Linked DNA regions of Homo sapiens. The protein of the gene in region 3 purifies or fractionates together with the protein of the main gene of each other region. This does not show direct contact. Each region holds a gene or a part of one and is shown on either strand. Other genes may lie near its edges. The genes, in order: DCAF17, ISCA1 and RAB40B.

Region 1 (10,443 bases), on a different chromosome or scaffold from region 3:
GTTTCTTTAAACAAAGTATATGAACAAAAAGCATTTTATTAACTTTTGAATTAATATTTCTTCTTTCTTGTCTTTAAAATATCATGGCTAGGATGGTTAAGTATTCTGTAAACATAACACAGACAAAGAATAGAAAAAAAGAAGAACTAATATTTGTTCTATGCCCAAAACTAAGAGAAATCATTTTCCAATCATAAAACTGTATCTATTTATGCCATTTTACCTTCAACAAATGGAAAATATCTACTTCATAGGTAGAAGTCTTAAGGATTTAAGTTTTTTTGAAAGTTATTAATATTGTGACTTCCTACTGATTTAAGGAATAAGTGGAGACTAAATCTGCATCTAAGCTAAAAGTAGCTGCTATTGCCAAGTATTGTGGTATATGCCTGTAATCCCACTATACATGCCAGCTACTCAGGAGGCTGAGGCGGGATGATCGCTTGAGCCCAGGAGTTCAGCACCAGCCTTTGAGATTTCTTCTCAAGCAAATAAAGTTAAAAAAAAAAAAAGTACTTAGCTGTTGATAATAGATTCTATACAAACATATTGTTTTTTATAGCCCATTCATTTATTCAACATACATATGCATTAACCACATTTTAGGTAGTGTAAAGCAGGGAGAATTATATTACTACTCAGTTTCTGCCCAGGTTAGTTGAGAAGACAGACAAATGACAATTCTAGTATAGTGCCACAACAGTATACACAGTAACATGGAAGCACAGAAAAGGCTACTAACCAAGCTGGAGGAGTTAGGGGAAGGGTCTCAGTGGAGCTGTGATACCTGGGATGAGTCTTGAGATCAACTGATAAGAGGAGAGGAAAGGAAGCTTCAGATAAAGAAAATCTCAAATATAAAGGCACATTGGCTTGAGAAAGTCAGCAAACATGTCAGAACCACAAAAGCAAACATGAGGGATGGCCAAAGAGATGAGGCTGAAAATGTGGGCAAGATAATGAAAACATGGGAAGATAATGAAGTGCCTGGTATTCTACCCAAAGAGATTCAGATTTTGTACTATAAGGTACCTTATGTGAACCCCTAGGGATTTTGTACACATATCTTCAAGGCTATGAGATTTCTGTAGGAGAAACCTTTCATTTTCAATTTGATAAAAATCTTTCAAAAAAAAAAAAGAATATTAACAAAAGGACACTCTGGATCATCTGAATGAGCACTTTTTAATTGAGTGCTGTCACAAGATTTGAATTCACACGTGTGTTTAGGAGTGTATTGCTAAACAAGTGGTGCTGTTTGTCATTGATACATGTTAATGAGAATGAAATGGGGACTACTGTATGTAAATGATGTTGTTTGTCAAGTAAAGGACAAATGAAGCCATGACATACTGAACAAATGAAGGTTTTGTGGTGATTTATATAAAGAAAAGAGGTGAAGGCATCAAGTAATCTCTCAACACAAGGGCAATATGGACAGACCTTTCTGTAAGGAAGGTACGCCACAGAGGACATTCATGATTAGAGCTTTTTAGGTCCAACTAAAGTCTCATTGCTCACAATCATTTGAATTTATTGGTTTTATAGCTTTGTTTCATTTAACTTGTAAATGTTCGGGTGTTATCGGTGTATAAAAGATACAACACACACATAAAAAAATTAAAAAGACAAAAAACAAGAAAGAGACAAGATGAGGAGTTTATACCTAATTTTATCTTTGCATATATGTGACATACTAAAAAGGTTTTAAGTTAACAATGGAGGATCCTGAGTATCTTATTTGGGTATAAGAAATACTGCTCAGCCAGGCGTGGTGGCTCACGCCTGTAATCCCAGCAGTTTGGGAGGCAGACGCAGGCAGATCACCTGAGGTCAGGAGTTTGAGACCAGCCTGACCAATATGATGAAACCCCATCTCTACTAAAAATACAAAAATTAGCTGGGTGTGGTGGCATGTGCCTGTAATCCCAGCTACTCGGGAGGCTAAGACAGGAGAATCACTTGAACCCGGGAAGCAGAGGTTGCAGTGAGCCGAGATCACACCATTGCACTCCAGCCTGGGCAACAAGAGCAAAAAAACTCCGTCTCAAAAAGAAAAAAAAAAAAGGAATTCTGCTATGGGCCAGGAACGGTAGCTCATGCCTATAATCCCAGCACTTTGGGAGGCCAAAGTGGGCGGATCATCTGAGGTCAGGAGTTCACAACCAGCCTGGCCAACATGGTGAAACCCCGTCTCTACTAAAAATATTAAAATTAGCCAGGGATGGTGGTGTGCGCCTGTAATGCCAGCAACTGGGGAGGCTGAGGCAGGAGAATCACTTGAACCTGGGAGGTGGAGGCTGCAGTGAGCCGAGATAGCCCCACCGCACTCCAGCCTGGACAACAGAGCAAGACTCCATCTCAAAAACAAAAAACAAAAAAAAAAGGGAGCCTGTCTAGGGGCTAGGGGAGGGATAGCATTAGGAGAAATACTTAATGTAGGTGACGGGTTGATGGGTGCAGCAAATCACGATGGCACATGTATACCTATATAACAAAACTGCACGTTCTACACATGTACCCCAGAACTTACAGTATAATAAAAATAAATAAATAAATAAGAAATTCTGCTATGGGTGTTCGGAGCTGCTGAAAGAATGCAACAGGCAAGTGACAGCTTGTGCTTTAGGAAAATCACTCTGGCAGCAGTATGGAGGAGGGCTGGAATTAAAAGTACCCAAGTGATAGCAGCAGGAGGCAGACAAATCCTAGGCAGATGGGGGTGGGTCCCCAGTGAAACCTGACCTTCAAGCTGAAGACAGCTTAAAGCCTAGCTACATGTCCTGGATAAATCTATGGACCAGATCGAGAACCTCTCTTCCCATTTGGTGCACTTTCCTCTGATTGATCCCCACCCTTCACCTATTTTACATATACCCACCCTTCTCTAATTTGTTTTTTCACACTGTTGTGCCCACCTTTGAGTGGTGCCTTTGTTTTAGCCTATTTTGCATACTCACAAACCAATCAGCATGCACTTCCCCATTCTGAGCCCATAAAAGCCCCAGACCCAGCCATGCCAGAAGAGAGGCCAAACTACTTTGGGTGGGGGACCACCCTTGCGTCCCCTCTTGGCTGAGAATGAAAGGAGTTAGCCAGCTTGCTTTAGGCAGACAGTAAGGGAAGCGTCCCTGAAGAACCTACGACGTGCCCCAAAAGTGCTTACACCAGATGTTTTGTGCACATAAGGGAATTTGCACAGGGGGCTTGCCTAAACATGCCCACAATAGAAAATTCCATTCCCTAACACATGTGCAGTAAGGGAAATAACCAATATGGAGTAGCTCAGACTAAGGGCCCACGAGCACACTGGAAGGATGGGGTGGAGCCTCCAGAAATTTGCACCTTAAGCCCAGGTATTCAACTGTAAAGGGGGCAACCAGCAACCTGCTTTCAGGACCCCTTTCTTTACTGGGAGCTTTCCTTTCACTAAATAAATTCTACTCCACTCACTCTCCGGGGTCCACACACCTAATTCTTACTGATTGTGAGACAAAAACTCAGACCTAGCTGAGCTAAGAGCAAAAATCCTGCATCAAGAGCTGTTTTGTTGCTCAATAAAACTCTTCTCTGTCCTCCTCACCCTCCGATTGTTAGTGTAATCTCATTCTTGGACACAGGACAAGAGCTCAGGATGCCACCAAACATGGGTAGGAAGAAGAGAGTAACACGGTAGCTCTCTGCCCCACCAGCAGCGCCTGGTAGCCACCCTATGCAACAAGAAGCAGGGCGGGGGGCCAGGCCAGCCCCAGGGCCATGGGCGGGAGTGGGGTAACAGGACTGATAGGGCTGTTAACATGCCCCTGTTCGTCAGGCTGCAGAGGGCAGATCTAAAAGAGCTGTTAGCATGCTGTAACACCCACCTCTGGGGCTTCTGGGTTGCCTGACCCATTTGGTTACCACCACCTTCCCCTAGTCTGGACTCCAGAGCCCACTGTGGGAGTCACTTGTGACATGCCTGGTCCAGCCGCAAGCGGTGCACGGAGCCAGCTCCTGTGCCGGCACTTGGAGCAACCAGCTGGATACCACACAACTCTGCACTCACCAGCTCAGACACCCTCTCCTGCCAGGGGCTGAGCCCACAGTCAGGTGGCCACAGGATCCACACCTGCGTGCAAGCCAGGAGTGGCCCAGTGGGCCAGTTGTGCAGGGCACCTCCTGTGGCAAGCCCAGCCCGAGCAAGGCCTGGGTAGGTCTCCAGCTGCGGAGGTCTCCAGTGGCAAAGCAACGTCAAAAAAAAAAAATCCTGTGTCACAAGTAAGGCAGAAATTAAGAGACTACTTAATAATGTGATAAAAAATGGTGAGGCCCTAAATTACTTAGGTGAAATGAAGATGAGATGGATAAGAGTCTAAAGGACTTGGTTGTGGGTGAGGAACAGCAAGGCATCCAGGATGACTCTCCCTTGGTGACGACTTGGTGGTGAAATAAAGGCCACAAGAAAGAAGACAAACAAGTGGGGGCAAAGAGGAAAGAGAAATGAGAGAGTTGATGAATTCAATTCAGAAATGATTTGAATTTCATTTAAGCCAAAGAAAACCCAGTTATCTTTTCTGGGTTCCAGTTTTCTCAGTGACAGCTGCATTCATGAATTACCAAATTAACTATTGTAGCACTCTCTAAAAATATACAAAGCACTCTACCGTATGCTGTAAATAAGTCATGAAAAATCAGCAAAAGCTCGAGCCCTGAAGGAAATTCAGCAGGGTTAAAAAGAGATATGGCCAATGTTTACTAAACACTTAAACTGTGACCCAACACACTCACCCAGTACTGTAAGTACTCACTTAATGTCATCAACAGATTTTTGGAAACTGACTGTAAGCAAAATGACATATAACAAAACCATTTTTACCATAGGCCAATTGATATAAACAAAAGTTAAGTTCCTATAACATATTTCTGGTCACAAAAACATCACCAAACTCCTAAATACAAACCAAAACACTTCTAATATTAAACATTGAAATAAATGGGAGCTATACATACATTTAAGGAAGATTAATAAAAACAAGTAAGATAGTTATTTACCTAATTATTCCAGTTCAGGGTCGAGGGTGGCTGAAGCCTATCCCCTCAGCTCAGGGTGCAAGGTGGGAACCAACCCTTGGACACGACGACATTCCATCGCAGGGAGCACTCACACTCACACTCAGACAGGAAACACAGACAAGGCCAATTCATCCAGCCTGCACTGAGATGTGGGAGGCAGTACCCTGGGGTACCTGGTGAAAACCCATGCAGACGTGGGGAGAAGGGGCAAGATCCACACAAACAGTAGCCCCGGTAGGAAATTATTATTTTTTCTCATCAAGTTATACAAAATGACACTGAACGAAAAAATGCGATTCAAGGACCTGCTGTACTGTACTTTTTGCTCTGCCAGTCAGGTGCGATCGCTGGCTTTCTTTGAGCACCTATGAACAAGAGGTAGCATGCCCAAGTCCACGTGGGAGATACAGCGGCCCCACCCTTAAGGGACTTAGAGCATGGCGGTGGGACACATGTGGTGCAAGCTTGCTGAAAGTTTAGTGTGCTGGGAACTTTGAACATACAGGCAGGGCTAGTTAACAAAGTATATCTTTTACTTAGAGACATCGACGAGGAATATCTTAGGCCGTCCAATAAGAATGTAAGCATTTCATATTTTATTCCCTATAAAGAAAAAAGAATGGAGGCGAGAGGAAATGAAATGAAGCAATTATCGCAAAACCAGTCAGTGTCCCCGCAGGCCACCCAAGGACAAGCCTCCGGGAAAGAGTAACTCAATCCCAGTTTGGAGGGTGAAACTAAGAGTGAATGGGAAGCCAGCATCTTCCTAATACAAAAGCACAGTTTACCGTCCCCCTCAGCCAACATGCGGCTGAAGGGAAAGCCGCGGGGCGTACCTTTAGCACGGGACGCTGCTTTGGGGGGATCGCCCTCGACACAGCGCCCCTCCCGGCACCTGGCCAGAACCTCCCAGGGCGAAGGTCGGGGCCGAGAAGCTTGTGAGTACCGGGGCAGTGAGGGAGGGATCCCTAAGTGCAGGGCGCACACACGGGGCGGAGACCTGGAGGCGGCAGCACCGCGCCCCCAGGGCTCTGCCCAGCTAGCCACTCGCAGCACAGAGAAGCGCGCCCGCAAGACAGCGCAGCCTCCGCGGGCCGGAGGAGGCGGGGCCGCGGCAGGCAGAGGCAGGGCCGGGCAAGCCCTCGCTCCCCGCCGCCTGACGGGAATTGTAGTTCCTGGGAGAAGCCGGGCTGCCTCACGAGGCACTAGGAACTACATTTCCCGGTGAGAGAGCGGCTCCGGCCGGCCGCGCGGTACCGGAGCGTCGCACTGTCAGCGGCCAGAGAGCCTGGGGCAGATCGAAAAGGGAGTGCTTCTTCCCTTCTCTCCGCGCTCTGGCGGTGCAAGCGGCTCTGCTTTCCCTCGCCCCGCCGTCGGGTGCTCCCTGCCCGCCTCCCCGTGTCAGCTTTCCCTGGGCCCCGCCGGGAAAGTCTGGGCCTCGAAATTCGAAGGCAGCGGCGGCTGCCCAGCACGGGAGTGTGGGGCGCGCCACTCGGCGGCCCAGCCTACCCAGGGCCCGGCCCGCGCCTCCATGGGCCCGACCCGGAAGCCCAACGTGTGCAGCCGGCTGAGTCGCCGGGCGCTGGGCTGCTTCTCGCGCGACGCAGGCGTGGTGCAGAGGACCAACCTGGGCATCCTGCGGGCGCTGGTGTGCCAGGTGACCGCCAGCCGGCCGGGGCGGGACGGAGGGCCGCGGGCGCGCGGCGGCCGAGCCTCCTGCGGGGATGCGGTTTTAACGCGCTGGGGCCTCCCTTTATAGGGTCACATGTGATGGGGAGGAGGATACAAGCCCGGAATCTGGGATAGGTGGTAATAGGGCCACCAGCTGCTTTTAGTTTTACGCTTCTTATGTCTTACCTGGAAACAATTATTCTAAAAGTTGGTCACCTCATTAAGCCAAAACATGAGGGCAGAGTGGAGGAAGGATGCAAAAAGTTTTAAAATAATATAGGTGACATTATGTTGCTTTGAAAATTTAAAATCTAACTTAAAGCCTAAGAGTTCTTTCCTGAACGGAAATTCTTTATGTCTTTTAGGAAAGTACTAAATTTAAGAATGTCTGGACAACTCATTCCAGGTCACCTATAGCCTATGAGAGAGGAAGAATATATTTTGACAATTATCGGCGCTGTGTCAGCAGGTAACTTTTTATTGATAATTTTGCTGTAATTCACCTCACTGTTGATCTTAACTATAATTTGTATAGAACCACATGCCTACATTAGTGCCTAGTGAAATAGAATGAAAAAAATGGGTCCGAAATAAGACTAGGCAGTAAAAAATGCATGTAATTTTAAAATCTTGTTAAATCTAAAGTTGCAGGTGTCATTTTTGTAAATACCAACTTAAAGCAAAACTACAGTGCAGGCAAAACCACAGATTGTTCAGAGTACTGTTTAGTGTTTAGTCTACTTATACCACAGTCAAGAAATCCAGTTGCCAATCAAATAATTAGATGCTGCTTTGGAGAATTGATGGATTGTGTTTTGGAAGTACTTGCCTTTTTTTTTTTTTTTTAGAGAAATTTTTTCAAACAAAAGCCTAGTATTTAGAGATCCAAAATGTTTAACAGTCAGCCTCATCCACAACTGTCCAACATGAGGGGGGAAGGAAAGCCACAATGCATCCCCATATACTCATTACCCAGATTCAAAAACTATCAAGATTTGCCACATTTGCTTTATCTAACCCACTTTTCCTTTTGCATGACCTCTTTTAAAGCATATTCTAAACATACATCAGTTTGCATTTTTAAAAAAATGAGCTTTTTTTATAGGCTTTATTAGGATATAATTCACATACCATATATTTACCCATTTAAAGTGTACAGTTCAATAATATTTAATGCATTCACAGATACATGTAATCACTACCACAGTTAATTTTAGAGCATTTTCATCACTTCAAAACAGAACCATGTACCTTTAAGCAGTCACCTCAGTACCACCATTACCCTCAGCCCTAAGCAACCACTAGTCTGTTTTCTGTCTGTAGATTCACCTATTCTGTACTTTTCATATAAATGGAATCATATAATATATGGTCTTTTGTAACTGGCTTTTTCACTTTGCGTGTTTTCAAGGTTCATCCATGTTGTCACATGCATCAGAATTCCTTTATAAAGTTGAATAATATTGCATTGTATCAATTACCACATTTTACGTATCCGTTTATCAGTTGTTAGACATTGGTGTTTCTACCTTTTAGCTATTATAAATAATGCTGCTATAAACATTTCCATGTAAGTTTTTATGTGGGCATTTATTTTCACTTCTCCTAGATTATACCTAGGAATGGAATTGGTAGGTCATAAGATTATACTGTAACTGCGTTTAATAGTTAGAAGAACTGCCATACACTTTTCTAAAGTGGTAGTACCATTTTATGTTCCCATAAGCAGTATATGAGGGTTCTGATTTTTCCACATTCTTGTCAACACTTGATGTGTGACTCACAGCATCTCACTGTGGTTTTGATTCCATTTTCCTGATGACTAGTGATGTCAGGCATCTTTTCTTGTGCATATTAGCCATTTGTATGTTATTCTTTGGAGAAATGTTTGGTTAGATATTTTGCCCACTTGTAAATTTTTTTTTTTTTTTTTACAAAAATCCTTACATATTTTAGATACAAGTCCCTTATCAGATATATGATTTCAAATACTTTCTCCCATTGTGTAGATTGTCTTTTTACTTTCCTGATGTTATTGTTTGAAACAGAGAGGTTAATTTTTTTTTTTTTTTTTGAGACAGAGTTTTGCTCTTGTTGCCCAGGCTGGAGTGCAATGGCGTGATCTCGGCTCACTGCAGTCTCCACCTTCCGGGTTCAGGTGATTCTCCTGCCTCAGCCTCCCGAGTAGCTGGGACTACAGGCATGCGCCACCACGCCTGGCTAATTTTGTATTTTTGGTAGAGACCGGGTTTCTCCATGTTGGTCAGGCTGGTCTCGAACGCCCAGCTTCAGGTGATCCGGCCACCTCGGCCTCCCAAAGTGCTGGGATTACAGGCATGAGCCACCGCGTCCAGCCACAGAGAGGTTAATTTTGATGAAGTCCAATTTATCTAAATTTTTTTCATTACTCATGCTTTTGGTGCCATATCTAAGAATCCATTGCAAAATTTGAGGTCATTAAGATTTGCTCCTAGGTTTTTTTCTAAAGGGTTTATAGTTTTAGCTCATATTTAGGTGGTTGATCCACTTTGAGTTAATTTTAGTATAGGGTATAAGGTAGGTATCCAACTCCATTTTTTTTAACATGCAGCTATACATTTGTCCTAGCACCATTTATTAGAAAGACTTTTCTTTCTTCATTGCAAGGCCTTGCCACCCTTGTCAAAAATCAATTGACCATAGACACTTTTGGATTTATTTCCGGACGTTCAAGTCTGTTCCACTGATCTGTATGTCTGTCCTTATGTCAATACCACATTGTCTTGATCACTGCTGCTGTGTTATTTCTTCTTTAAATGCTTGGTGGAATTAACCATTGAAAGCATCTGGGCTTGGCACTTTCTGTTTTGGTAGGTTGTTCATTATTGATTACATTTCTTTAATAGATACAGACTTATTCAAGTTATCTAATTCTCCTTGGGTAAATTTTGATAGATGGTGTCTTTCAAGGAATTCATCTAAGTTATCCAAACTTGTGAGCCTAGACTTATTCATAATATTTCTTTATTATTGTTTTAACGTCCATGAGATCGGTAGTGATAGCCACTCTTTAATTTCTCATATTAGTAATCAATTTTGTTGACCTTTTCAAAAAAACAGCTTTTGGTTTTGTTGATTTTCTCTATTGATTTTTGGTTTTCAATTTTACTACTTTCTGAGCTAATTTTTGTTATTTCTTTGCTTACTTTGGATTTAATTTGCTCTTCTTTTACTAGTTTCCTAAGGTAGAAACTTAGATTACGATTTGAAGTCTTTCTCCTTTTCTGCATATGCACTTACTGCTATACCTTTTCCTCTAAGCATTGTTTTTGTTGCATCCCACAAATGTTGATACGTTGTATGTGCATTTTCATTTAGTTCAGAATATTTTTAAATTTCTCCTGGGACTTCTTTGACCCATGTGTTATTTAGATGTGTGTTGTTCACTCTCCAAATATATTGGGATTTTCCAGTTATCATTGTTTTATTGATTTGTGGTTTAATACCACTATGACCCAAGAGCATACTTTATATTAGTTCTAGTCTTTTAAATTTGTTAAGGTGTCTTTTATGGCTCAGAATGTGGTCTACCTTGGTGAACGTTTCGTGTAAGCTTGAGAAGAATGTGTATTCTGCTGTCGTTGGATGAGATATTCTGTTTGATCCAGTTGACTGATGGTACCTTTCAGTTTAAGTATATGCATAATTACTAACTTTCTGCCAGCTGGATGTGTTAATTAC
Region 2 (9,909 bases), on a different chromosome or scaffold from region 3:
TTGAATAATTCATACTTTCCCCCATTGGTTTGAAATGCAAACTTCATTATGTATTACTTTGTTACATATAATCACTTAAGAATTTCTCAGGTCTCTTCAGTTTTTTCGTTGATCTATTTGTTCAGACTCCAGAACAAAATTTAGTAACTATTCTGTGGTATTGGTTTTAATCAGTAATCCTCATTTGTGTCCTCCACCTGTAAATATAATAAATTTCCCTTTTTCCTTTTATATCAATAAGTTATTGCTACAATGATTACCATCCACAGCTTCGTATCTGCAGAGTAATGATCTAAGATATTTATTTCTGGCCAGATAATTCTTTGCAATCTATTATGTTTGGCTGCAAATGAAGATACTGAATTATACAAGGCAGAACCTTAAGTTCGTCTGGTGCTCTGTACCAACATGGAAATAGTGAATATGTAAATGTATTAAAATGAGATCACTCTAGGAACCTGTCTGCATTCAGAAAGAATTTTGACTAAGCTTATATTTAATTAATCATGTGCATATATACTTTTCAATATCAAGTCTTATTACTTGATTCAAAACAAGTGACCAATTCTAGTATGAAGTTTTTGTGACTACTTAATAAGAAGTAATTTTATGGCTTTTGTCATAAAGCGAGGCTTGTTTCATTTATATTGGGTTTTGTTTCTTCCCCTCCTCTAGGTAGCCTTTCCAGTAAATATATGACTCAGGGAAAAGCCTCAGCGAAGAGGACCCAGCAGGAATCATGAGGGAAGGAAAATGCAGCACTCTAAATGGCCACTCAGGCGTTCCTATTCACTCGGAAAATTAGGTTCATTTCACAGGACACAGCAGTGTAGATCAGGCTTCAACTTAACATTTAAGGGAAATGTCAGATTTTTTTTTAATTTAATGAAATTGTTAATGAGGAAAAATTTTTAATATAGTCTTATCTACCACACATCCCCATAGATTTAAGGATTTTAATAGAAAGACATGATGTATGTATTTAAGCCACGTTAAAAGAAAAAATATAACTATGGACCGGTATTCAGTGAATACAGTTTCATGGTTTTTAATTCTTTCAAAGCACATTAAAAATGGTGTGCTGATAAACCCCAAGTAAATTAACCCTTTTTCCGTATAAATCCATTTTTTGTTTTGAAGAGGGGAAATTATATTTATTGTTGTTTACTGAATCCTGGTGTGAAAGCATATCAGATATGTATGAACTGCTACTGCTGTACTTCCGATTTACGGACATCATTTTATTGCTATTTGTAGACGTGATAACATGAACATGAGTACCTATTTATGTGGGCCTTCAGTGGATGGGCAGTGCCACTCAGGTCTCTGGGGTTTCCCTCTCTAATTTTAAGTAAATTGACATATAACTACTATGCTTATAAAAATGAAGTAAGGAAAACAAGTAGTCCTGTTTGCCACTAAAAACATTTTCAAAGGAAAAATAAAATGAAAGTACTTTTTACTTTTTATGATACTCAGAAATTAGGATGAAGAACTTTTAAAATTGCTGAAGATCAAAGAGGTTATCTCTGCCAGTCACAAGTGTGGCTGGTGTCATTCTGGGTCTGACTGGAGCCCTCCTGGACTGTTTCTTTAATTTCAAAAGCCCTGCAGACATAGTACCTGGTCAGAACTATGCCTCGGTTTATTTATCATTTTGAAATAAAATCAGAATTTCAACCTGTAATTTTATCTACATTATTTTCTAGTGAAAGATTCCTAAATTTCCTGGGGAAAAAAAAAAAAGATCAAGGAGTGAGAACATTGGGAATGATAGTAAGAGGCGTTTAACAAAAAAGAAGAAAGGACAAATATACTCCCCTAAAATAGTGTACACAGACTTCCCTTTGACTTGTGCCCTTGCAATCATTGGTGTGTGTTAACATCCAGTGTGTTCCAGGCTCTGGGAACGTATAAATTTGTTATTATAAAAGGCACAGATGGGGGTGGGGGGGCGGGGAATTTGTAGGCAGGGAGGCTCAGGGGGTGCTTGCTGGACGAACATTCTGGATGTTTGAGGACTCAGAAGACGCACATCCCTGTGCCCTTCTTTTTTAAACAATTATTTGAAGACAGTCTAGCTAAAGACGAATCATATCAAAATTAAAGACTTCAGAATTTGGAGGCCATGGTAGAAAGAATTAGTGATCATTCCCTACTCATTTTGAACGCAAACTAATGAATGACGCAACCTGGGCTGATGCTGCTCTACGTGACCGTCCTCAGCTGCCCCCTTCTGGTTTCTTCTCTCTAACTCATGCATGAAAGTCGACTAGGCTTACAATGCTTGTCACACTTTTCTTTGAAAAGCCCATTGATGCTGTTCTGTTGTTTTCTAGCATTATAGCAGAAGACAAGTCTAAGACCAGGCTGATTTTTGTTCTCTTGTAGGTTTTGTTTTTCTGCCTGGGTGCTTCTGTTTTTTAATTTTATCCCTGTAATTCAGAAAGAAAATTACCTCAATATAGAAATACATCTATCCAGTGACTTTTCATGCTAGGAAAACTTCAAGTTTAATCTCTACATGACTGGCTTAATTTTTACTGTCATTCTGGTGCTTCCTGTTTCTAATATGGATTTTCTCATTGCACTTCTAATTTTCTGGAATTTGCCTCACTGACCTTCCTTTACCTCTCATTTCTTTAGTTTACTTATATTCTCTTCCTTTTCATAGGAGCCATATTTTCTTGTATCCCTTTAAGGATGTTAAAAGTTTCCTACATTTTAATCTGATCCTTAAGGTAGCTTCTGCCCAAAGTACTGGGTCTTTTGTTTGATTTTCAATACCTCACACTGGATCCATGGGACAATGAGCAGTATTTGCCAGCAGGCCTGGATAATGGATTGCCCTTGATTCTTTACCTGGATGTGGTCGCAGCCCCATCTTGCTGCCCCAGCTGGGATGCCAAAACGTCTGCTCTTTGCTAAGTCCATTGGCCTAGCTATCTTTCAAGTGCAGCCGGCTTATCTATCTTAAGCTGTACAAATGCCCCATTACCAAGGTTCTCCTTGCCACCTTCTCTCAGGAACAAAAATATGAAATCTCTTTTGTATAGCAGTGGTCCAGTGGCCCCAATCTATGATGTTTAAAACTCTTGCTTGGCTGGGTGCAGTGGCTCACCCCTGTAATCCCAGCACTTTGGGAGGCCGAGGCGGGCAGATCGCTTGAGGTCAGGAGTTCGAGACCAGCCTGGCCAACATGGCAAAACCCCGTCTCTACTAAAAATACAAAAATTAGCTGGGCTTGGTAATGGGCATCTGTAATCCCAGCTACTCAGAAGGCTGAGGCAGGAGAATCACTTGAACCCAGGAGACGGAGGTTGCAATGAGCCAAGATTGCACCACTGCACTCCAGCCTCGGCGACAGAGCAAGACTCCATCTCAAACAACAACAACAACAACAAAACTCTTGCTCAATGTGTGCAGGATCAGCAGTGTGCAAAAATGTTTTTAAATGTTCTTAGATAACTTCAGTGTATTTTTCTTCTTGAAATATGTTTGACAAATGGCTTCTACTTTTAAATCTTTCCTGAGTGGAAAAGATCCTGGATAAATACATCAATAGAGTTCAGTGTTACAAGCAAAAATATACACACACACGTTGAAAACAGAATTTATCAAACCCCTGTAAAACTGTAAAGCCCTCAGTAGTTTTTTCTTTGGAAGCAGGCATATTTGGACAGCAGCAGTCAAGAACTACATAGACTTTCCACTGAATGGAACTCTAGACTTAGACAAGGTCTGGCCCACCTCGTTTTCCAGCTGTGTGGCAGTCCCCTAATCTCAGGCAGTTCAGTTTCCATTCCTATAAAATGGAAACCATTCTTGGCTTTCCACACAGTTGTGATAATCAAGTGAGGTCTTACCAGGAAAACACTTCTTTAAATGTCTAGAACTATGAAACTAATGCCTGAAGTGCGGGGTGAAACAGTTCCCTATTGCAAGTTCTGTCACATATTAGTGGAAATCTAAAAGTGGTTACAGCTTGTAACTCTTTTGACACTTCCCATACCCACCTCATTTTGACACCACTGGACAGCTGCTGCTCTGAGATAAGCTCACATACTGCTTAAATAATCGTGAAAATTATTTATTCTAACATAACATTATTTCAGGGACTTGTGCCAGTTTCAAGTGATATTAGAAACTAACAAGTAGATTATGTGACTTAATGCTTATGTGCAAAACAACTAACCAAGTTAAAAACTGAATAGTGGGGTTTTCTTTTTTGTTTGTTTTTGTTAAATAGTGGGTATTAAATAGAGGAAAGAAGTCTGTTAAACATACACAGGATCCTGAATCAGAAAATTGAGGACTAGATGTTTTCAATAGTGTCTAATGCTCTCTACTAAAATCCTTGAGTTTCAGCATCTGTAAAACTGCCATGCCAGTGCTTCTGCCCTACTCAGTTCAAAGTTGTGAGGCTAGTATGAGATAATATAATATGCTCATGGAGTTTTCTGAATCTTGTAAAGTGCTGCACAACTGTGTAATGTGTCAATAACTGAAAAAAAAATGACAGCATCTTTTATTTTTATTAAATTTTAATTTTAGGGCTGTTTTAGGTTCACAGCAAAGTTAAGCAGAAAAACAGAACTGCATATATCCCTTGTTTCCACATGTGCCTCACTGTCACTCTGCACCACAGTGGTACACTTGTTACAATCTTAAACCTACATGGACACATCATTAGCTCTCAGTGCCCATAGTTTACCTTAGGGTTCACTCTTGGTGGTGTACATTGTGTGGGTTTTGACAAACGCATAATGATATCTATCCACCATTATAGTAGTTTCACAATACATGGCATCTTTAAATACTCATTAACAATTACCATTTGAGTGAGGCTGTGTGCCTTGCACCCCTCTAAGGGCTTCTCCTGTATTAACTCATTTAATCTTCACAATATCTGTAGGAGGGAGGATATGAGATCCCAAACCCCCAGGTAGTCAAAGATGAAGGCCAAGAAACAAACCCACCACACCACCACCTCTCTATGTCCCTCCCTCCCTCCCTTCCTCCCTCCCATCACTTTTTCAGTTTCTTTCTTTCGAGATGCAGTCTCGCTCTGTCACCCAGGCTGGGGTGCAGTGGCGCAATCTTGGCTCACTGCAACCTCCGCCTCCTGGGTAGCTGGGATTACAGGTGCCCGCAAACACGCCCGGCTAATTTTTGTATTTTTAGTAGAGACGGGGTTTCACCATGTTGGCCAGGCTGGTCTAGAACTCCTTATCTCAAGTAATCTGCCGGCCTCCGGCCTCCCAAAGTGCTGGGATTACACGTGTGAGCCACTGCGCCCGGCCCCCAGTTTCTTTTATTTTCTTTCTTTCTCTCTCTTTCTTTCTTCTTTCTATCTGTCTGTCTGTCTCTCTCTTCCTATCTTCCGTTCTTTCTTTTTTTTTTTGAGACAGAGTCTCACTCCGTTGCCCAGGCTGGGAGTGCAGTGGCACGATCTCAGCTCACTGCAACCTCCGCCTCCCAGGTTCAAGCGATTCTCCTGCCTCAGCCTCCTGAGTAGCTAGGATAACAGGTGTGCACCACCACACCCGGCTAATTTTTGTATTTTTAGCAGAGATGGGGTCTCACCATGTTGGCCAACCTGGTCTCGAACTCCTGACCTCAGGTGATCTCCCCGCCTCGGCCTCCCAAAGTGCTGGGATTACAGGCGTGAGCCACGCGCCCGGCCCCCAGTTTATGTGCAGATAAGGCTTAGGGGAAAAAAAAAAGCGTCCTCTTATTGTCAATGCGATTGCATTTCTGTAGCAGGAAGTCAGAACTACTTGATGGAATTTTGAACTATCCTTTCAGAAACTGCAGGAGATCGAAGATAAACTTGGCTTTAAAAAATGTTTCACTGATTAGTTCTTCCCACATTCAAACACTGCGAATCTGTCCTCCCCAGGACTGCTTCATAGACCCCTCCTGCCCTTTTTCCTTCACTTCTAGCACTTCAATGACAAATGCCACCTGTCTTGATGTCCTCCTCTCTTCATCTGCTAGCCCTGTCCTGCCAGTATCTCATTCTTCCCTGGCCCCTCTTTACCTGGCTTCCTGTGTATGCCTGGGTACCGCGCCTGTGCAGTGTCTGGTGCTCAGGAATACTGCATCAAAAGGCAGAATTAAGCCCCTGAGCAGCCAGGACAAGGTCTGACAACACGTTTTAAATCGAGTAATTGTTGCTCGCTATAAATGTGACTATTCACACTGCTGCCCAGTCACATTTTCAAGTAGGGTTGGTTCCCAGTTCAGCACCAGAATGAAAACTGCATTAGTCACCACCCTTCAGCATCCCCAGCAGTACAGCACGCTGGGGAGAAGGGTGGAGGGTGGCGATTATACAACTCTGCGGTAACGCCATGCTCTTAAGAACAGCCTAATTGGACCACAAAAGAAGAATGAAAATGGATGTAGATGTCTGGGCATCGGAACGATCACTCTGCATTTGAGAGCATAAGCTCCCAGTGCAGGGTTGACTTATGCGTCCTTAAGTGTCACCGCCTATGATGGTGTTTGTCACGGTGAGTATTAAAGCAGGGGGTGACGCTGCACCTTGCCCCGGGGGCAGGTGGTGAAGCTACGTGCATCCGGAGTCAGCAGGTCTGAGGTCATTCCTCGCCCCCTCCCGCCCGCTCCCCGACGTCACGCCGACTCCGTCCTCGGCGGTGAAGACATTCCTCCCGGGCCCTGCGCCCTGCAGCGTGGTAACCCCACTGCCGGAGACCGTGCGCAACCCAGCTGCTAGACCCCCGGCGTTGAGCGGCAAAACCCCGCCCCGAGCGGCTTGCCCCGCCCCCGGCTCGTCACTCATGCAACTCACCCAATGGTGGCGGCGGGGGGCGGGGCTAGGACTGAGGGCGCCGTGCGCCGAAGCTTGTGGCGTCAATGCGCCCGCCGTGTCCATGGAGAGAAGCTGAGGCGGCCGACCTTCGGCCCGAGGCACCGGGGCGCCGGGACGGCGAAGATGTCGGCTTCCTTAGTCCGGGCAACTGTCCGGGCTGTGAGCAAGAGGAAGCTGCAGCCCACCCGGGCAGCCCTCACCCTGGTGAGTGCTCGCGGCGCGCGGCGGGGCCCGTGACATTGCTCGTGTCCGCCCCGTGCAAGGGGAGGTCACGGCGGCCGGGAGTGGGGCCGCAGGGACGCGGACACGTCAGACCTCGGCGTCGCTCCGACCCGCCGCACAGCCTCGCCGCCTCCTTCGCCTCCGGCCCCTCTTTGCAACGATAAACAAGTCCCGGGCGGGGCTGCTCTCTTGGCCCCGGAAACTACGTTTCCCGTCAGGCCGCGCGGCAACCGCGTGCGGGCCGGAGGGGATCCCGGGGGTGGGCGTCCCCGGGGGCCGATCGCCTCCACACTCCTGCCGGCCTGCGCTGTTCGGCCGTTCCGGTTAAGCAGAGGCTGAACGTGCCCGGTGGCGGGGGTTCCCGGTGGTGGCCCGGAGTCCTAGCCTGGAGGTGCGTGGGGTGGGGAGGGACCAGGCTGTCCGAAGGACCGCTGTGTCGGGGCGACAGCGTTCGCAGAGGGCGAGCACAGCGACAACAAAGCCCCCGGCTCCTGCCGAGGTCACGGCCGCGGCGCGCAAAGCGTTACTTGCCGGTGTCCTGGGTGATTGAGGCCTTTGAAACTCCCTCTGTGCCTCTAGCAAGCCTAGGCTCTTAGGACAAAAGATGATTTCCCAGAGTGAGTTTACAGCCTTTTCTGGGTGAAAGGTCAAACACTCAGAGGGCACCAGAGTGCAACCATTGATTACTTAGAGAATTCACTGAGCTCAGTGTTCCGGCCGCACCGTTCAGTTTTTTAGTGGAAGGAAAATCCACATAACATAAAATTAGTCCTTTTAAAGGGTACAATTCAGTGCCATTTAAGACATTCACAGTGTCGTGCAACCATCACCTCTATCTAGTTCCAAAATACTTTCACCCCAAAAGAAAAATTTATGATCACGTTCCTACATACACTCCCCTTTTAGTGAAGGAGACGACTTTATGCAACCATTCGCTTAGAGACTGGGAAAAAAAACGATTTAAATTGACTCATCGATTCTGTTGCATCTAATGCCAAAAGGGCCTATTACCAGAAAATAAGTTTGTAGCAAAGTAGAAGAAAATTGTGATCAGGTGAGAGAATTTATTTTTATAATCAATTTTTTAGGCCTTTGATATTACCCTGATTATATATGGTACTACTAGTGTACTGATTATGTATCATTCTATATTACCTCTTTTCTGTAGGAGCAAGCTTATTTTCATACACCGTGGGATGTAGAATTAAACAAGGTTTTAAGAACTAGAGGGCACAACTCATTCTTTGTGTCTCTTTCAATCTCAGTAAGAATTATTCAGAATTCTTCCACTGGTAATGGTAGATCCAGGAAGAGCCAGAAGGTTCAGGAACAGTTTTTGCCTTTTCTTTTTTGCTTTTTAGCAACCCTATTAACTGGGTTTTTTGTTTTTTGTTTTTTGTTTGTTTGTTTGTTTTTGTTTGTTTTGTTTTTGGAGACAGGGTCTCACTCTATCTCCCAGGCTGTAGTTCAGTGGTGCAATCATGGCACACTGCAGCGTCAACCTCCTGGGCCCAAGCGATCCTCCCACCTCAGGCTCCCAAGTCGCTGGGACCACCGGTGTGCACCGTCATGCATGCACCTAGGGTCTCCCTGGGTTGCCCAGGCTGGTCTCGAACTCCTGGGCTCAAGCAGTCCACTGCCTCAGGCTCCCAGTGTGCAGGGATTACAGGTGTGAGCCACCATGCCTGGTCCCTGATGTCTTTCTCCATCACCATTTGACATGTTACCTCTTCCTTCAGAATTTCTTTTTTTTTTTTTTTTTTTTGAGACAGGGTTTCGCTGGGTTGCCCAGGCTGGAGTGCAGTGGCGTGATCTCAGCTCACTGCAGCCTCTGCCTACTGAGTTCAAGCAACTCTCTGCCTCAGCCTCCTGAGTAGCTGGGATTACAGACGCCCACCACCATGCCCAGCTTATTTATTTATTTATTTTTGTATTTTTAGTAGAGATGGGGTTTCACCATCTTCACCAGGCTGGTCTTGGACTCCTGACCTCGTGATCCACTCGTCTCAGCCTCCCAAAGTGCTGGGATCACAGGCATGAGCCACCGTGCCTTGCCCTTCCTTCAGAATTTCTATGTCAGTCCCTTTCTCTCCATTCCTAGTCATTCAGCAGACATTTATCAAGATCTGCTGTGTTTCAAGACAAATGAATGAGTTATACAGTTCCCAGCCTACGGGGCACAGTCGCAGGCCAAGCCTTTGCCACCTCTTACTAGGAGTAATAGCACTGCACATTCTCAGGCTTGGTCTCTCTCCACACTTGCTCCCCTCTGCTTCAGTACATGTTATCATAGCAGTTCTCAAGGTATCCATGTTGCCTGACTCAGCTGTTTTGATTAACTTGCAGGAGTCTACTGTCTGTACTCTGTTGTCCTACTTAAGTATGGCTGACTTTAGAAGCTTCTCAGAAGCTGTACCAGAGAGAAGGCACATCAATGCTGTTTTCCACACAGCCTGTGTTGGTGGGCTTGCAGTCATTTTAGTTCCAGCATTCGTGCCCTAGTCAGGACACTATGGCATGTATTGCTCTTTGTGCTTAGTTTATCATCAGCATGTATCGTCAAGTGCAAAAGTAGTGATGCCGTCAAAGGCCTAATGAATGGAGACAGATAAGAGAGCAAACAAAAGTATACGTAATTCAGTAAAACTGATTGGAAGAGGTAAATGTTACTTGGGTCTAATAAGTAGAGACAGATAAGAGCAAACACAAGTATACCTAATTCAGTAAAACTGATTGGAAGGGATAAATGTTACCTGGATATATAAATTTTGATGTTAGGAATTTGACATGTTGCAACATTTGAAAAGTGCTATATGTGTGGAGTCTACCAGATGTCAACAAAAGGCTAG
Region 3 (9,505 bases):
GGGGCAGGAGCAGAACACAACAGGGCCATGAGCTCAGCGGTGCCAGGAGGCGCAGCCAGTGTGAGTAGGGCACGTGGGCTCCGCCGGACTGCAGTAGAGGTGGGGGTGTGAAGAGGTCAGGTGAGGGTTGGGTAGGGGTCAGGTGGGGGTCGGATAAGAGTGGAGGATTGGGTGAGAGTCAGGTTGGAGGTGCAGGTCGGGTGGGGTCAGGTGAGGGGTGAGGATAGAGTGAGAGGTGGGGGTCAGGTTTGAGGTGGGGGTGTGAAGAGGTCAGGTGAGGGTTGGGTGGGGGTCGAGTGGGGGTTGGGTGAGAGGTGGGGGTCGAGTGAGAGGTGGGAGTTGGGTGGGGGTTGGGTGAGAGGTATGGTGAGAGGTGGGGGTTGAGCGGGGGTCAGGTTTGAGGTGAGGGTCAGGTGGGGGTCAGGTTTGAGGTGGGGTTTGGGGGGAGTCAGGTGAGACAATAAGGTGGGGCCTGAGGGGTCTCAAGGGTGGATGGAGAAGCGCCCCAAGCACTCATCCTGGGTCTCTTATGTCCCAGCCACGGCCAGCAGCCATCCCCGAACCCTCCCTGCTGTGCCCAAAGGGCAGAGCCAGTGCCCGGGGCCCTCACCCGCTGGGAAGACCAGAGACCACAGGGCTGGAAGGCGGACGCAGGCTTCCCCTATGAGCACTCGGAAGGCACGTGCTGTCTCCCGTCGGGGGTGGGCGCTGGTGCAGCCATGTTTGGAGAGATCCCCTCCCACTTAGTTCTCAAAGTGGGGTTCCTGGAGCTGTAGCATCACCACCATCTGTAACCACGTTGCAAATGCAGATTCCTGGGCCCCCAGTGCTGAATGGGAGCCTCTGGGTGTGGCCGCTGTGCCCTGCTCCAGCGTGGGAACCACTGGCGGGGGGCTCTGCTTCTGAAGGGAAGAGGGGACTGTGTGAGGGGCAGCGGTGCAGGGGTCCCGTAGTGCAGGGGAGAGCAGAGAGGGGCCTGGCGACGGCCTCTGCCTCGCCCACCAGCCTCATCCAGCTGTGACCTTGTTGCCTCTGCCCCCGCTGGCCCTCCCGGCTGGAAGCTGCGTCATCTGCTGGGGTTTCAGTTCCGTGCGCTCAGAGGACGCACTAAGATGCAGAGATGCGGGGCCCCAAGCATGATGAGACCCCCAATGTAGTTGATTCACCCGGAGGTGGGCACTGATCCCCACTGGGGAATTCCCTTATATGGGAATTTGGGGATCAGACCTGAGAGTGAGTGAGGCCGTTCTCTCTCCAAGGGGTGAAACCTGGGGGCCATGTTTTCTCCTGTGAGGAGGGAGCCCCTCTGCAGCGACAGGAAGACCAGCGGGCACCGTGGGAGGAACAAAGGCGGCAGGTGGGCCGGCCTCGCCGGCACTGGGTCCCTGGCTCAGCTACTTCCAGGCCGGCCACACCTGGCCCTTCCCACAGCACAGCCGGTCAGCCCTTCCCAGCTCACAGGAGACACTCCCAACCATCCTTCCATAAAATCGACATCGTGCTTAGGCTGGTTCAAGTTGCATTTCCACTGTTTGCACATCACAGACGGAACTATTTTAAAAATGAAAAACATGTTAGCCTTCAAGCTAAATTTGGAAGAAGAAAAAAGAAAAATGCCCCCTCCCTGTGCCCCCTCCGTGGGAAAATGCTGAAATAGATATTATGTGAATTACTGAGGCTGGTTTAACTTCCAGCAACAGAAAATCCATCTGGAGGTGGCACCAGGGAGCTGCTCTGTATCACAGGACAGGAGGCTCGTGGGTGGGCCCACAGTGCCCAGACGCTGAGAGGAGACTTGGAGTCTGCGTTCCTGTTTGCGAACCCCCAGCAGACGCCCTCACATCTCACTGCTGGAGTCTCCTCGTGGGCCACACCTACATGGTCACAGGCAGGAGTTGGCAGGAGCACAGGCATGGCTCAGAGCAGCAGTTTTCACAGTGGGGCCCATGGGCCCCCACAGGTCTCTGAGACCCTTTCATGGTCCTATTGGATTAGAGCCCACCCTACGGACCTCCTCCTAACCTGATTACATCTGCAAAGACCAAAGTATTTCCAACTAAGGTCACAGTCACAGCTTCCAGAGGGTGTGATTTCAATAAATCTTTTTAGGGACTCCATTCAACCCAGACAACCAAAACTTCATACGTGGTGAACCTTTGTCTCCTGTTTTCTCACGACTGCAGACAAGCCTAAACAAGATGACTTTTTTTTTTTTGAGACGGAGTCTCGCTCTCTCACCCCAGCTGGAGTGCAGTGGCACGATCTTGGCTCACTGCAAGCTCCGCCTCCCTGTTTCACGCCATTCTTCTGACTCCCAAATAGCTGGGACTACAGGCGCCTGCCACCACGCCCGGCTAATTTTTTTGTATTTTTAGTAGAGACGGGGTTTCACCGTGTTAGCCAGGATAGTCTCGATCTCCTGAACTCGTGATCCACCCGCCTTGGCCTCCCAAAGTGCTGGGATTACAGGCTTGAGCCACCGCGCCCGGCCTTTTTTTTTTTTTTTTTAAGATAGCATCTCACTCTGTTGCCCAGGCCGGAGTCCAGTGGTGTGACAGCGGCTCACTACAACCTCTGCCTCCTGGGTTCAAGCAATTCTCCTGCCTCAGCCTCCTGAGTAGCTGGGACTACAGGCTAGCGCCACCGTGCTCAGCTAATTTTTGTATTTTTAGTAGAGATGGGGTTTTGCTACGTTAACCAGGCTGGTCTCGAACTCCTGACCTCAAGTGATCCACCCACCTTGGCTTCCCAAAGTGCTGGGATTACAAGCATGAGCCACCACGCCCGGCCTCACCTCCACCTTCTGATGACATTTTACTCGTGGAGAAGCATCAGTAAATGTTCCTTTCATTCCTTCTGCCCACAGAGGCCTAGTCTCCAGAGCAGCCCCAGATCATGGGTGGGTGGATGTTCAAGGAGATTTCAGCGTGGCCACAGGGAGGAATGTTCCGATGATCCGAGATGGACAGGTCTGGAAGCCTGGCTCTGAGTTGGGCAGAAGGTAGGCTAGTGCTGTCCAGACACCTCCACCCTCTGCCTGGACTTTACACATGTACTGAAACTGGGGAGGAGGAAGAGGTATCCCACCACAGGACTGTCCCTCAGGAAACTGGGGGCCCTGGTGGGAGGAAACCTGCTTTGGCTGTAGAAATAAACACCTCTGTTTGGTGAAAGCAATGTTTGGGGCAAGAAGATGGACACCATATCTGAACACAGCCCTCTTCTGACGTGGTTATTTTACCTGGCCCTCCAGGTGGGAGTGGCCATGTTCCAGCTCAGCCAAGGCCAGCTTGGAGGTGACAACTAGGAGGTGGTGAGGACCTTCTGTGGGGCAGGAGAAGAGCAGACAAGGGCTCCCCCATCACCTGTCCTCTGTAGGAAGTGGTCTGGCCACCCCTCTCCATGCCCCACCGTGAACACTGCTGGACTGCTGGGTGTGACCCCGAGGGTGGGCTGGGGGCCTCCTGACCCCTATTGTACAGTGAGTCTGGATGTGTAGGTGGGGAGCGAGCAAAAGAAGGTACCCTTTCCTCACTAGGTAATAGCCATGTGACCCACAGCTGATTGGAACATGGAGACTGAGGGTTAGGGATGGGAAGGAAACTCCCCTGAATTCTTTTTGGCAGAGTGGTGGGGCTGGGGACTAAATGCCATCTTTCTCATAGTTTTCTAGCGTCCACCTTCCATCCTCTTTTCTTCCTCTGACCTTCCTTCTAAAAAAAAACAGTGCTGCAATCCCAGCATTTTGGGAGGCCGAGGTCGATCACTTGAGGTCAGGAGTCAAAGACCAGCCTGGCCAACATGGCAAAATCCCATCTCTACTAAAAATGCAAAAATTAGCTGGGTGTGGTGGCACATGCCTGTAATCCTAGCTACTTGGGAGGCTTGAATCCAGGAGGTGGAAGTTGCAGTGAGCCAAGATTACATCACTGCACTCCAGCCTGGGCAACAGAGCAAGACTCTGTCTCAAAAAAAAAAAAATGTGGCTGCATTAGTAACTAAAGCAACTAATCAACCAATGAATAACAGGTGTTGCAAACTAAATTGGCATTCCAAAGTAAACATTTTCTAGGTCCAAATGAATGCAAATGACAAATATAATAATCTTGACTTCAGTCTCTTTTGTAATTCTTCTTCCGCTCCCTCTTCTGTTCCTCCCCCACAAAAAACTTCTAATGGGGTCTAGAGCAGTTCCCTACACAACGCAGGGTGGAGGGGATGAAGTAGTGGGGGCATTATCCTTCTTCTTGGACGGAGCTCGCCCTTTGCCTGCTGCCTGAATTCTGCACCAAATAAACCAATGTGCACCTGGTGAGACCCTCAGAGCGAAGGGCAGACCTCGGCCTGGCAACCCTTGCTCTCTAGAGCAGAGGAGAAGCCAAAAGGCTGGAGGGTCCCACCCAATGCTCTCCTCCAGCACGCACGCAAACACATGCATGGATGCACAAACAAGCGCACGCACACATAGGAGCGCATGCATAGAAGCAGCACACGCAGACACACACATGCAAAGATGCCTGCAAAGGCACACATGCACACGCACATACATGTGCAGACACCTGCAGAGGCACACATGCACACGCAGACACACAGATGTGCAGACATCTGCAGAGGGACACATGCACACGCACATACATGTGCAGACACCTGCAGAGGGACACATGCACACGCAGACACATAGATGTGCAGACACCTGCAGAGGGACACATGCACACGCAGACACATACATGTGCAGATATCTGCAGAGGCACACATGCACACGCAGACATGCACACACACGAACACATGCACACGTACACAGGCGCATGTGCACACACAGGCATTCAGGCACGCCGCGTAAATGGGGCAACGACGAGGCCCTGGATGAACCGTGGGGAGAGACCGCGAGCCTGGATTCTACGGCGACAGGGACTCCTCCGGCGAGGCGGCCTGCGGGGGCCTTCCGGCCGCGTCCGCCAACTGGACCGACCCCGAGCCCCACCCGGCCAGGCACCCGAGGTCTCCCTGGTGGGCAGGTGGGGAGGCCCCACGCTGGGACCCTGCACCGCCCCTCGCCCCTCCCGACTCGGGGCGTGCAGACCCGACGACCGTGGGAGCGAGTTCGTGGCGCTCACGGGCGCACGCGAGAGTGTAAACACCCGGCCCCACCCCCTGATCGCCCCCACCCCGCCCCGCCATTGGCTGCGGGAGCAGAGTCCCCGCCTCCTGCTTGTTCTGGCTCCGCCCCTGCCCCGTCTCCGGGCCTCCATTGGCTGTGGTGACAGCGACCTTTCAGGAGGGGCGGGTGGGCGACAGCCCGGAGGCGGTGACGAGAGTAAGATGGACGGACAACCAAGCCAGTGAAAGCGCGCAGCTGCCCTAGCAACTGCGGTCCACCAATGGCGGGGCCGGGCGGGGATGCGCGCTGTCAGCGCTGGGCGGCGGGGCGGGGCCGGAGGCGAGCAAGGACTCGGGGCCCGCGCGGCGCCTCTCGGGGCCGGGCCGCCGCCTCTGCGCTCAGCCCCGCAGGCCGGGCATGGGTGGGGGCGCCGGGCCGTCACGATGAGCGCCCTGGGCAGCCCGGTCCGGGCCTACGACTTTCTGCTCAAGTTCCTGCTGGTGGGCGACAGCGACGTGGGCAAGGGCGAGATCCTGGCGAGCCTGCAGGATGGCGCGGCCGAGTCCCCGTACGGCCACCCGGCGGGTGAGCGCGGGCGGAGGGCGTGCCGGGGTGCGGGCGCGGGGCCGGGGAGGGGCGCGGGGCTGGGGAGGGGGTGCGGGTGGGGGTCCGGGTCCGGGGACGCGAGACCGGGCAGGGGTCGGGAAGAGGCCGGGGCGCGTGGCCGGGGAGGGTAGGAGTCCCGGTCCGGGGGCGCGGGGCTGAGGAGGAGCGCGGTTCGCGGGCGGGCCTTTCTCCGCCCGGCCCTGGCCCTCGTGCTGCGGCGTCCCTGTTGCACCCCCAGTTCCACTCGAGGCCCCGCGGCGCAGTCTCCATCCTTCTCCGCAGTCTGCGCGCAGCGGGAGCCCGCGGCTGGGCCGGGCGCTGGGCTCCTCCCGACCTGGGGCCGCTGCTGTGGGGACCCGGGGCGGGGGCTCGAGTCCGCAAGTGCGCGTTCGGCCGCGGGGCAGGAGGGGCGGGAGGGGACGCGAGCTCCGGGGCTCCTGGGGCGGAGCGCGGCGAGCAGGCGCCCAGGTGCTGGGTCTGCGCGTGGGTCGGAGGGGAGGGGAGACCAGGGTCCGGTCCCGAGGCCAGGGGTCCCGCGTGTCCGGGGGAGAGGAAGGAGCACAGGTGACTCGCGTGCGGAAGAGGGGACCCCCCACGACAGCGGCCGGAGAGCGGGTTCCAGGGCGAGGGGAGGCCGGAGCGCCCAGAGCTCCCAGGCAGGCAGCCCGGGGATCCCCCAAGTTTGAGGCTTGAAAGCCGGCGCCCGGCGAGGGGGTGGACGGCTCCGGGGAAAGAAAGGCGGGGGCAGGAACCCAGGAGAAGGGGGAACGCGCAGAGGCGAACACCTCGGCTGGGAGTGAGGAGCAGGCGGGGCCTTCACCCACGCGCATCCCTGGAACAGCTTGGACGAGGCCGACCCTGAGGCTGTGGAAGGAGCCCAGCCTGTGCCCACCTTCCTGCCGCGCCTCGGGGCTGAACCCACGCTTCCAACAGAGACCCGCTCTGAGTCCTGGGCGGAGGAGGGCAGCCGGGCGTGGAGATGGAGTCTTGGTGGGAAGGACCTGTCAGCTCTGGGGCCTGGGAAGGGTCTGGGAAGCCCCAGGTCCAGGGTCCTGCCAGAGACGAACTTAGCGGGAGAGGGTGGGAGGAAGCGGGATCTGAGGCTGCTCGGTAGAGGGTGCAGGCTGTCCCCTAAGGGCAGCTCCAGGCAGGCGGCGTGAGCACCAAGGGAGTGTGGCACGGCTGGAGGGGGTGGCCTGAGACTGTGGAGCGTGGGGTGGGACTCAGGTGCCCGGCCACACCTCAGCTTAGGGGACGGGGTGAGGAATGGGCAGAGTTTGGGGGAGCAGCTGAGATGGGCTTGGGCTCACGACCAGCACCCAGAGGCCTCCTGAAACTGCAGCATGCGGGGGAGTCTCTGGCAGCTGGTGGGTGCAGAGTGTGCTCCGTGGGGCAGGAGGGGAGCCTGCGTCTCTACCTGTCCCCAGGCGCCGCTGCCCCCGCATGTCCTACCCCCCTCCCCGCTCGGTGGCAGGTCTCTAGGACCGTGGTGTCCAGTAGGATGCCATGAGCCACGTGTGGCTGTGGAAGTGTAATTAGAAGGAAAGAAAACAAAAAGCTTCCATTCGTCACATTTCTAGATAGTTCGGATGTCGCTGTGGCAAAGTCCGAGGGCCAGCGCTGCCCTGGAGATTGAGCGCCTGGAGGACAGGGCTGGAGATTGAGCGCCTGGAGGACAGGGCTGGAGATTGAGCGCCTGGAGGACAGGGCTGGAGATTGAGCGCCTGGAGGACAGGGCTGGAGATTGAGCGCCTGGAGGACAGGGCTGGAGATTGAGCGCCTGGAGGACAGGGCTGGAGATTGAGCGCCTGGAGGACAGGGCTGGAGATTGAGCGCCTGGAGGACAGGGCTGGAGATTGAGCGCCTGGAGGACAGGGCTTTGTCTGCACTGTGCCCTCGGGGTCTGGGCTCAGTGAGGGATGAACCCTACCAGAGCTACAGGAATAAAGCACCCAACAACGTGTACGCCCAGACGAATATGGCGCTTTAAGAGCTGTGCGTGTTTTGGGGGAGCAGACGGTTGACAGTGTTGAGTTTGATTGAAGGTGAGTGCCGTGGGGCGTGTGTGAGAAGGGTCACGCACAGAATGTTTGTGAAACTTCCTTCTGGTTGGTTTGAATGGAGGCTCGGGGATGCTTCTGCTGCGTGACTTTTGGTTGCTACATGCCGAACTGAGGACGAACCAAAACAATGGTCCAATGCTTTGTAATAAAGGCTTTCCCTTGACACGGAGGGAGGATTTAGGCTAAAAATACACCTCCCACCGGGCCGGGGGCGGTGGCTCACACCTGTAATCCCGGCTTTGGGAGGCCAAGGCGGGCGGATCACCTGAGGTCAGGGGTTCGAGACCAGCCTGATCAACATGGAGAAACCCTGTCTCTACTATAAATACAAAAATTAGCCGAGCATGGTGTCACATGTCTGTAATCCCAGCTACTCGGGAGGCTGAGGCAGGAGAATTGCTTGAACCCGGGAGGCGGAGGTTGCAGAGATCGCACCATTGTACTCCAGCCTGGGCAACAAGAGCGAAATTCTGTCTTAAAAAAAAAATCCCATCAAGAGCTTTATTGTCTACTTGGCCTGAGCTGCTGTAGAAAAAACTGATATCACGGGTGTACCCTTGCAGGTTTTTGATTTACCAAATATTTGTTTTAGAGTTAAGAAAAGATATTCTGAAAAATAGTAAGAAGTTGAGATCATTATGTTTTGTTTTTTATTTTTTCAGAGACAGGGTCTTCTCTGCCGCCCAGGCTGGAGTGCAGTGGTGTGATTGCAGATCACTGCAGCCTTGACCCTCCTGGGTTCAAGCCATCCTCCTTTTTTGGCCTCCTCAAATGCTGAGATTATAGGCCTGAGCCACAGCACCTGGCCATGTTTTTTTTTTTTTTTAATGACATGTTTCGCTGAGAAACACTATAGGTGCTTGTTATTGAAAGGTGAGGGCAGCCGGGCGCAGTGGCTCACAGCTGTAATCCCAGCACTTGGGGAGGCCAAGGTGGGCGGGTCATGAGGTCAGGAGTTTGAGACCAGCCTGGTCAACATGGTGAAACCCTATCTCTACTAAAAATACAAAAATTAGCTGGGCGTGGTGCCGCGTGCCTGTAATCCCAGCTACTTGGGAGGCTGAGGCAGGAGAATCGCTGGAACCCAGGAGGTGGAGGGTGAAGTGAGCTGAGATCACACCATTGCACTCCAGCCCAGCGACAGAGTGAGATTTTGTCTCGAAAAAAAAAAAAGAAAGAAAGAAAGAAAGAAAGATGAGGGCGTTCGTAACTCCACACTCCATTTCCCTCCACCCAATTCCTCCTGAGTTTTGTAGCCCAGGCTGTTATTTTTATATTGTCCAGGTTTATAGCCCTTGCTTCTGTATTGTGGCTGTAGTGCCCGCAATGATTTAGTATCAATTCAACATTTAAATACAGTCAGTGCTCACCAAAGTCCTTTTACCATTTATGTCTCTGTTCATTGTGCTGTCCCTCTTAATCACCTAGATTTCATTATCAGTCGTTTTTTCAGAAGGACTCGAGTATTTCCTGAGTGTTTTTTTGTGTCTGAGAATGTCTGCCCATGGTCTTTATCTTTGAACAATGTAGAGATATCTTGGCTGGGTATAATACTCTTAGATTTATTTTCTTCCCCAACACTTTGCAGCTGTCATTCCACCATCCCCTGGCTCACATGTGCTGTGGGGAAGCCTGAGGTCAGCTGATTTTTCCCCATGTGGAGGCTTGTCCTTCCCTTCATGAATTTCTGAGGAATTCTTTCTTTTTGTCTCATAGTTCTTCTGCTTAACCAGACCAT

The links.
Region 1: the proteins of RAB40B (region 3) and DCAF17 purify together in Homo sapiens (affinity purification with mass spectrometry; 3 studies listed by BioGRID and IntAct, with this or other methods). This does not show direct contact.
Region 2: the proteins of RAB40B (region 3) and ISCA1 purify together in Homo sapiens (affinity purification with mass spectrometry; 3 studies listed by BioGRID and IntAct, with this or other methods). This does not show direct contact.

What each region holds. Positions count from the first base shown.
Region 1 is NC_000002.12:171,427,995-171,438,437, forward strand, and holds the start of DCAF17 (DDB1- and CUL4-associated factor 17), read left to right. Parts: upstream 1-6,231; 5' UTR 6,232-6,583; coding exon 6,584-6,709; exon of another isoform or gene 6,710-6,778; intron 6,779-6,781; exon of another isoform or gene 6,782-7,003; intron 7,004-7,088; coding exon 7,089-7,192; intron 7,193-10,443. Other genes in the region: METTL8 (tRNA N(3)-cytidine methyltransferase METTL8, mitochondrial isoform 2 precursor), read right to left, coding at 6,680-6,687. UniProt on the Homo sapiens protein: May function as a substrate receptor for CUL4-DDB1 E3 ubiquitin-protein ligase complex.
Region 2 is NC_000009.12:86,279,511-86,289,419, reverse strand, and holds the start of ISCA1 (iron-sulfur cluster assembly 1 homolog, mitochondrial precursor), read left to right. Parts: upstream 1-6,881; 5' UTR 6,882-6,961; coding exon 6,962-7,042; intron 7,043-7,338; exon of another isoform or gene 7,339-7,451; intron 7,452-7,966; exon of another isoform or gene 7,967-9,909. UniProt on the Homo sapiens protein: Involved in the maturation of mitochondrial 4Fe-4S proteins functioning late in the iron-sulfur cluster assembly pathway. Probably involved in the binding of an intermediate of Fe/S cluster assembly.
Region 3 is NC_000017.11:82,694,633-82,704,137, reverse strand, and holds the start of RAB40B (ras-related protein Rab-40B), read left to right. Parts: upstream 1-5,439; 5' UTR 5,440-5,541; coding exon 5,542-5,683; intron 5,684-7,284; exon of another isoform or gene 7,285-7,749; intron 7,750-9,505. UniProt on the Homo sapiens protein: RAB40B small GTPase acts as substrate-recognition components of the ECS(RAB40B) E3 ubiquitin ligase complex which mediates the ubiquitination of target proteins.